Homo sapiens: one gene and its partner. The protein of the gene in region 2 interacts with the protein of the main gene of each other region in a biochemical or structural test. Each region holds a gene or a part of one and is shown on either strand. Other genes may lie near its edges.

Region 1 (3,802 bases), on a different chromosome or scaffold from region 2:
GTAAGGGCAAAGGAGCCCCTGGAAGGATCTCGGCCCTGGTGCTTTCTGTGTGTTACTGGCTTTTTATGTTGGAATGTGCTACTTTATTGTATGATGTGTCAGGCATTTCTAATTGGGTGAGAGCTCTACATGTAAGAACATTTCCATATTTCTCAAGGGTACATCTGATATGATTTTACGATTCTCTATAGCACTGTAGTTCAGAATTTTGCAAGGTAGTACGATTAAACAAAAAATCTCCAATCTCCAGTTTAGAGGCTGTTTAAACACATATACAACTGTATTTTAAAGCTGTCGCATATGTGTTTAAACAGCCTCTAAGCTGGAGATTTTTGTTTATTTTCGCAGCCTCCAAAGAACAGCATTTTGAAAAGAAAAGACAATACAAAAACATAAAGTCTGTATTGTAGGGGCAACTAAATTAGTTGTACTGAGGATAATACAAACTCCTCCAAGAAAGACATTTATAAAATTATATTAAGTTAGATCTTAGGGTAGAAAAGCATGACTTTTGTGCTCTGAATTTAAATCAGAAAGAAGTTGCAGTTACTAAGTTTCATTTATGGACTTTTGTGCCTTGCTGTCTTAAGCAACGTAAATATGAAAACCCGGAGTCCTTTAAAGTCAGTGAGACCTTTATCTTGTATCCGCCATTTTGAAGCAATCTCTCATGGTGTCAAAGTTTCAAAGTAGAGATCCTTGCATATAAGTGCCACATTTTAGGAAAATAAAGGCCAGACTTGCAAACTGCCAGTCTATATTAACATCTACTTTGAATCTCTTTGCTGGGGTGGAGGCGGGGAGCTCAGCTGAAGAAAGTAAATAACTTTTCTTTTTCTTCCTTTCTTTTCCCCCTTGAGCTCTTTTTCTTATAGGATTGTAGGAAACTTGAAAGGTAGGGAGAAATTCTACTAGTTTCACAACTTTGGGTGTTTGTGTATCTACTTTCTTCAAAACTAAAATGTGCAAAAGGCAGTTAGAGTTAACAGGAAACTCTGCTGCAGCTGCCGAGGACCCAAATGTCTGAAAATTTGCCTCCCGCAGGATCTGCAGCCTCCACACATCAAAATCAACATGGAAGCAGCTTGCACTACAAATGTGGGGTCCCGTCATTATCTGATTGGTGGGATTCTAACTTTACTTCACAATTTCTGGCAAGCCCTGTGCCAATCTTGAAGACTTTTTTGGAATATGCTTAAATATTTGATGGGTGTCTATTAAAAGTTAAATACTTGTTTGTTTAGCTTTCGTTCCTTAGACACATATAATCAAGATTCTCCAAAACCCTAATAAATCTGTTACTTACCTCGAAATCTAATTACCCAGACTACTAATTAGGTGAAAATGATTACCGGAAATGACTTCAAATGTGGAATAATAGTGGTTGAGCGGTTTTTCCAAGTTTGTGGTTTAGTGAGTTGGTATTTTAGATGTTAAACGCACTGACATTTTAGGTTCGCAGCAGTTGAAAGTGGTAAAAAGCTAAGATAATTAAAATCTCTGCCATGGAAAGGCAACAGTCTGGGGAGAGGTAGATTTCTTGAATTGTTTCTTTGTTTCTCACCAATGGGCTTTGTTATCAGCATTATTTATTTAGCCAAAGAGTTCTTTGTCTCTGCAAATGGCCCCAATCAAGTTTTGTTTGAGACAATTAGCTAGTGCCAGCCAATGAGTCCTATGCAAATGTAGGGATAGGAATGCAATGTGTGCATTTGAAGGCACGGGTTTTTGTTCTTGGGGAAGGCAGATTGTAATTGCTTTCTTCGGGTACTTTTTTTTTTTTTTTAAGTTTAGGGTGGGGGTGGGGAAGACAGGTTTATCTGGTCTCCTTCCATCCCCTCTAGTTCCAGAGCAGCTGGGGGTGGGGGTGGGGATGGGGGTGGGGGGAGTGTCTGCAAGTCCTTTAAAAGCCTCTGCCTCGCCTAGTCCGTGCTCTTTTTAAGTTAGTGCTGGAACGTGGAAGAGCTGCTGCCTCCGAAGCAGTAAACCAGCCCCTCTGTTTGTTTGTTTGCTTTGCCCTTAGTTCCACTGCTCCAAACCCACCCACCAAGGACTCTGAACCTGTCCACCCCGGGCGCATCAAGATCTTCCAGCTGGGTACCCCCGATTTGGGCCGACTTTGCACCTCCAAACAACCTTAGCATGATGTCTTATCTTAAGCAACCGCCTTACGCAGTCAATGGGCTGAGTCTGACCACTTCGGGTATGGACTTGCTGCACCCCTCCGTGGGCTACCCGGGTAAGTGAGCCCTGCTGCACTCCCGCACCCCTCTTCCCCATGCCCACCCTCCGGGGATGCAACACCCTGTTCCCATGGAACACGGGGGTTGGCAGTCACACTGTCCCCACCCAGCTTCAGGCTTGGTCTCCTCTAGGTTTGCCTTCTGAGGAAGCAGTCCCAGGGCATTTACTGACCAAGCAGAGAACAGGGGTTGGGAAAAGTGAGTAGGTGGGTCTGCAACCGTTACAATCACATCACTTTATTCTTAATTCGAGTAAATAAGGATTGGCATCAGAGTGGGATGAGGAAGGTTACTGTCCTTGTCATTTGGGCAAAAGACCCCTACCCATATCTCAATGACCAATTCCTCAGAAGTGTCCTCTTGGAGAAGCTGAGTTTTCCCTCCGTAAGTCCTTAGCACTCTCGGGCTTCGCAGTTGTTCCCTCCATGCCCAGGCCTTCCCCTATGACCTCCAGAGCCTGCTTTAATCCCAAGAGGCGTGACTTCCTCCAAATGCGGGTGCTTTCCTTTCCAATCAGATATGTTTAAAAATCCTCCCAGGAGTATGAACTATGTCCCCATTTTAAAGATGGAGGAACAAAGGCCCATGGTGTGCTAAAAACCATGGGAACAGGATCCAGATTTCCCCCATCAATTCGAGCTGCCAGTCTGTCCTCGGAGATCCTTTGACTTCTTGGAATAGCCTTTTTGTGTTGTGGTTTGGGGGTTGATCTTGGAGAACTTTTTTGTGTGTCTTTTAAAAAATGTTTCATTTGTTAACTTTCCAAGTGATGCTCTGATTGGAGCAATCTCAACACCAAGAAGAGTAGGGAAAGAAGCAGCGTGTGTCCTGGGTCCCCGGGGAGCAAGGCTGGGGAGACGGTGGGGAGAGCATTGGTAGGCTCCCGGCTGAAGGGCTGTGAGGAACGGGGGACTGCTGCGGGGTGGAGGGCAGGGGCGTCGGAGAACCCGCGGAAACGCCTATGACTGAGAAACTGCTCCCCCACCCTAAAGGGCCCTGGGCTTCTTGTCCCGCAGCCACCCCCCGGAAACAGCGCCGGGAGAGGACGACGTTCACTCGGGCGCAGCTAGATGTGCTGGAAGCACTGTTTGCCAAGACCCGGTACCCAGACATCTTCATGCGAGAGGAGGTGGCACTGAAAATCAACTTGCCCGAGTCGAGGGTGCAGGTAGGGCAGATGCAGGCAGAACCATCCTTCCTGATCATGCCACCCTTCCCGAGTATGGGACTGTGGAGAGCCCCAGGTCTTTCAGAGGACTGAAGGAAGGCTTGAAATTCTCCTTCACTCACTAAGGGGCCAGGAAACTATTCTCCTTCTGCCCTTTTTTGCCTGCCCGTCACCACTTAATCCCGTAAGCAAGGGTCTTCAAGGCCCGGGTTGCTGGTGGAGAGAGACCCATCCTTGAGCAGGTTTCAAGAGTAGTCACGTGGTGTTGTAACCCTTCCCTTCCTCTGTATAGAAATCCTCTCCTATTCTCATGGACTTGTACGTGTGAAAGCAGCTTAGCTCTTGGACAGTCCAAGTATTTTTACAGATGAAAAAATAGAGTAAATGACTT
Region 2 (4,582 bases):
CCCACGTGTGGGAAAATAGGCCCCTGGGGGCGGCGGTCCCGAGTTCCTAGCCAGAGCGGGATTAGGGAGTTACGGGTTCCCTGAGGAGTGAACTATGGAGGGTGTGGTTTGCTGTTGTCTGGGGAAGCCGGTGCCAACCCGAAGCCTGGACAGGGGAGGACTGGAATCCCGGCACACGCTGCCCATGCACTGCACGCCCATCTACTGCAGCCTCTTCGTGGCGTCCCGGCACCCCCCCCTCCTCCTTCCCTCTTCCCAACGCCACGACCACCACCCCCAGCCGCCGCTGGAGCCCCCGGTTTCCCGCCTAGTCGTTTGTTTTTGTACGTAAAAGGTGTCTCCGGATCACAGTTTTCTCACAACTTTCTCGCCAGGGTTGCAACTCCTCACCCGAGGCGCTTCCCGGTCCACTCCTTCCCCCGCGCCGGCGCCGCGCCTCCGGTCTCCCCGCCCCCATCAGGAAACCGCCCGAATCAACTTTGCAAGAGTGCTCTGCGGGAGACAGACACTCAGCTCGCCCAGGACCCGGACCCTGTGGACTTTGGATGGATTGGGGGAGGGGGCACAGAAAGAGGGACGGGAGGAGGGAGATTCTGCTGCTAAGAGCCTCCTCCCCCTCCAAAGATGTGCGCTGCGCTTGGGACAAACTTCCAGCTCAAGAAAGTACGGGGGGACAATGGCAACAGCCGCTGAATTGCAAAGCCCAGCAGTGCAGGGGAGCCGCCTGGGATTCCGGACCCGGCTGCACCCCAACCTTCCACAAGGCTCGGTCTTGGACTACCCCCACTCTACAGCAGAACTCTGGCCTCCGCCTGCGCCTATTCCCGCTCTCTCTCTGTCCCTCCCATCGAAACCCACGCCTTACCGGAGCAGGAGGGGGCCCAGGCACGGTGCTGCCCGCCGTCCGCGCCGCGCGGGGCCGCGGGTGCCGCCGCCACTGATCCTCTAAACGCGGTCTCCCCGCACTCTCCCGGGCCGGGGGATGCAGAATGGTTTACAGAGGGACCGCGAGGCGCTGATTGGTCGCAGGCCGCAGTGACGTCAGCGGGCGCTGCATTAAGGCGAGGGGGCTTCCAGAGCTCAGCCAACAGCCAGGAGCAGTGACCAAGCCGCCGGAGCTGGGGAGAGACGCACCGGGGCGGCGACTGGGCCAGGAGACCAGGGACTGAGGGACGCGCCCGGGGAGGGCCAGCAACGAGCCGCGGCCCGGGCGGCGACAGCGGCGGTCCGCGCCGAGCCGTTCCAGCCGCCGGCCTACTGTAGCCGCTGCGCCAGGACATTTTTTTTTAAAGCTCTCCAAGCTGCCCCCCTCCTCCCCGACTCCTCCCGCTGCAAAAGAAAAACAAAAAAAAAAAAAGGAAGGAGGCTAGAAAGGAAACCCAGATTTGCCACCACAACGAAAAAAAGAAGGGGAAAAGGAAAAGGAGAGAAAGTCGAGCGACTGTGGGGTTAGACGGAGGCAGACAGAGCGTGGGCCGAGCGATGCGGGGCTGTGCGCCCAGGCGGCCGCGAGTTGTGACTGGAGCCACGATGCACGGCCAGGCGCGGTGAGAAGCCAGCCCGTAGTGCCTCCCGAAGGAGCCCGGGCGCAGGGAGGGTCGCCCTGAGGACACGGAGGCCGCCAGGCAGGCCAAGGGCCGAGGTGACTGGGCTGGGGCGGTAGGGAAGGAGCGAGTGCGCCTGGCTGCCTCCGCACGGAGTTGTCCCTCTCTGTTTTCGATTGACACAAACACTTCTCCAAAAGCGGGGAAACCTAAGCAACAACAGCAATCAACACCAAGATCTTCCTCCTACCCTCCCCTCTTTCCCTTCTCCCGCGGTCGGCCCTCGCCCCCTCCCCCAGGCCCAGCGCGGGCGCTCGGCGCGTCCAGACCCGCGGCGCGATGCCGGCAGTTTAGGATCCAAAGCTTCTCTGCTCCTTTTGTTCTTTCCTTCCCTTTTTTAAAAAAAGAGGGGGGAAATCCCAGTGGTGGGCAGCCTGGCACGCACACAGTCGCCCTCATACCCCGACAAAAGCAGATGCACTTTGACTTCTGACAGCTCTACCTCAAGCCCCGGAGAACTCAGCGGCGCTTTCCTCGCAACCCGAGCTCGGCGAGTCGTCGTCTTCTTCTTCTCCGTTTTTATTTATTTATTTCCGTTCCCGCCGCCGTTCTCGCTGACCTTCACTCCTCCGCGGGCTCTGAGCAGAAGGGTCGCATTCTCTCCCGCCTGAGACTTCTTTTCCTCGCCCCGGGAGCTCAGGCGGCGCCGCTCCAGCCCGGGGCCCCGGGACTCCCCGGCTGCACACTTCACTGAGACGCCCCCCCAGGCCCCGATCAGCCTCGTTTCCTCCACCCTACTTTGATTTCCTGGTGCGAGTTTTGGCTTGCACGGCCGAGTGTGTGTCCTCTTTTTGGAGAGACTGGGGAGCTCGTGCCGATTGTCTTCAGGAGTCATCCCCTGGGCTCTACTTTGCCCCTCTCTCTCTCTGGGCCTCATCAGACCAAACCAAAGACCATGGTTCACTGTGCCGGCTGCAAAAGGCCCATCCTGGACCGCTTTCTCTTGAACGTGCTGGACAGGGCCTGGCACGTCAAGTGCGTCCAGTGCTGTGAATGTAAATGCAACCTGACCGAGAAGTGCTTCTCCAGGGAAGGCAAACTCTACTGCAAGAACGACTTCTTCCGGTGAGTACTTTCCTCCCACGCCTCTGCTGCTACCTCCCCGCGGGCCCTTCCCGGCCAGCTTCGGATCAGAGGTTAGCGTGGCCTCGCTGCCCAGTTAGGAACTGCTTCTAGAGAGGGCAGCCAAGTCCCGCGGGCGCCCGCCTCTCCGCCAGCTGGCGCGCTGGGAGCCCGGGACGCGGCCCTGCTTGCATCCTGGAAACTATGGGTCTGGGTTTGGCTGCATGTGCCTGGGAAGAAAGGGTCTGAGCCTGACTCGGCCCAGAAGCCCCTTCAAGCTTGGAAGAGACAGGGCAGCCTCGGGCGTTGTAGCCCGGACTGCTGTCTTTCCCGGAGCCAAGCTCTGCAGCAACTGCATTCTCCAGGCCTTCGGGGTTGTTTGCCCTCCAGGCAGAGCCCAGGCTCCCTCCCGGCCACTACCTTTTCCGACCCCGAGCGGTCTTGGCGGTAAGCTCCGAGCCTTTTGCGTAGAGTGTCTGGGCCAACTGCCCTGTCAGCGGCAGGAAAGAACTCGGCCTTAAAGCCGATCCTGCACGCCCGGGGGTCTTCCCCAAACCCGGACATGCCTCCGAGTGCAGACCTGGACAAACTGCTGCACTGTAGCCTGCGAAGTGCCCGGAGCTTTTTCCTGCTTCCCTGGCTGCCGAAGTTGTCTGGTGGTTCGGCTTCAGCCCCAGGTGACTCCGACTCCCACGGGCTCCGCTCAGTAGTCCTCCTAGGAAACTGCCAGCCACAGCCAGCAACCTCCTTGATGAAACCTGGGGGAAAGCCGAGACCTCCAGCTTGCTGGTGGGGAGACTTCTCCCTACCCCCCTTATTCGTTTAGCATTTTAATTATATTATCGTACACTCACAATTTTGCCGCTCCATTCACACAAACACACAAGTCAACAGAGAAGAACGGGCACAAATGCGAATTGTAATTCCACCCTACGGATGTGAAATATCGCAATTTACTCGGCTGACTTGGTCTCTGCTTTTCTGAGTTTGTGGTCATAGTTCAAACCAGGGAGCAGGAGGAAGAGGGATTCAAAGCCACTCAGAGGGCCAAGACGCGCTGTCCCCAGTGCCGCTCCAGGACTCGTGGCTGGGGTTGGGTTGCGTGGAACCATGAAGCAAAGCTCCGTGCTCGCTGGTATTTCGGGAGAACGCGCAGGCTGAGCCTCTGAGCCTCCGCGGGCTGCCCGGTTTTCCTCAAGGACTGGATCATAGCGGGAGGGTGGCAAACCGTACTCGTACCCGCTGCCAGTGGGTCCCTGAGCCTGGCTTCCACAACCCGCGGCAGAGCGCCCAGAGCCAGCTCCCGCAGCTCCCGCTTTTGCCAACCTGTCCCGCTTTAGGCAAGAGCGTGGCGGCGGCCCCGCTAAGGCTACGGAGGGGGGCTCTCCGCGGCTATGTTTGTTTACCAACAGCGGGGCTAGACATCGCCAACCCCATGCCTATGTGCGGGTCCTTTTGCGATGAAGGAGAGAAAAGCGGCGCTCCGCGCACGTTTATATAGAGTTCTAATTGTAATTCGACTTTTCTGAATCTAATCGGAAAATAAGTGCCCCGTTCCCCCCGCCCACACAGGTCACTGCCTTGCCACCTTCTTTAGACGATGCATCTTTCCTCTGGGATAACGCTGGGAGTGAGGCTGGGGCTTGGCGGGTAGCTTGGGCCCCTGGCTCTAACCGCGTGTATCCCCTCCCTAACTCTTCCCTGGTGCCGCGCTCTCTCTCCTGCTGCCTCCTCACCTGCTTAACCGGAATTCTGCCTCTCTTTATCTCTCTCTTCCCTTCTTTCTGTGCTCCATTCCTCCTCTCCTACTTCCTCCACTTTTTACATCTTCCCTCTTTCTCGCTGTCATCTTTCTCTCCGCCTGTCTCCCCTTGCCCCTGGCTGACCCATCCCCGCCCCCGCCCCCCACCCCCACC

What was found.
Region 1: the proteins of LHX1 (region 2) and OTX2 form a complex in vitro, tested with the Homo sapiens proteins (one study listed by BioGRID).

The regions. Positions count from the first base shown.
Region 1 is NC_000014.9:56,803,797-56,807,598, reverse strand, and holds part of OTX2 (homeobox protein OTX2), read left to right. Parts: intron 1-1,931; exon of another isoform or gene 1,932-2,023; 5' UTR 2,024-2,142; coding exon 2,143-2,239; intron 2,240-3,235; coding exon 3,236-3,411; intron 3,412-3,802. UniProt on the Homo sapiens protein: Transcription factor probably involved in the development of the brain and the sense organs. Can bind to the bicoid/BCD target sequence (BTS): 5'-TCTAATCCC-3'.
Region 2 is NC_000017.11:36,935,699-36,940,280, forward strand, and holds the start of LHX1 (LIM/homeobox protein Lhx1), read left to right. Parts: upstream 1-1,776; 5' UTR 1,777-2,499; coding exon 2,500-2,669; intron 2,670-4,582. UniProt on the Homo sapiens protein: Potential transcription factor. May play a role in early mesoderm formation and later in lateral mesoderm differentiation and neurogenesis.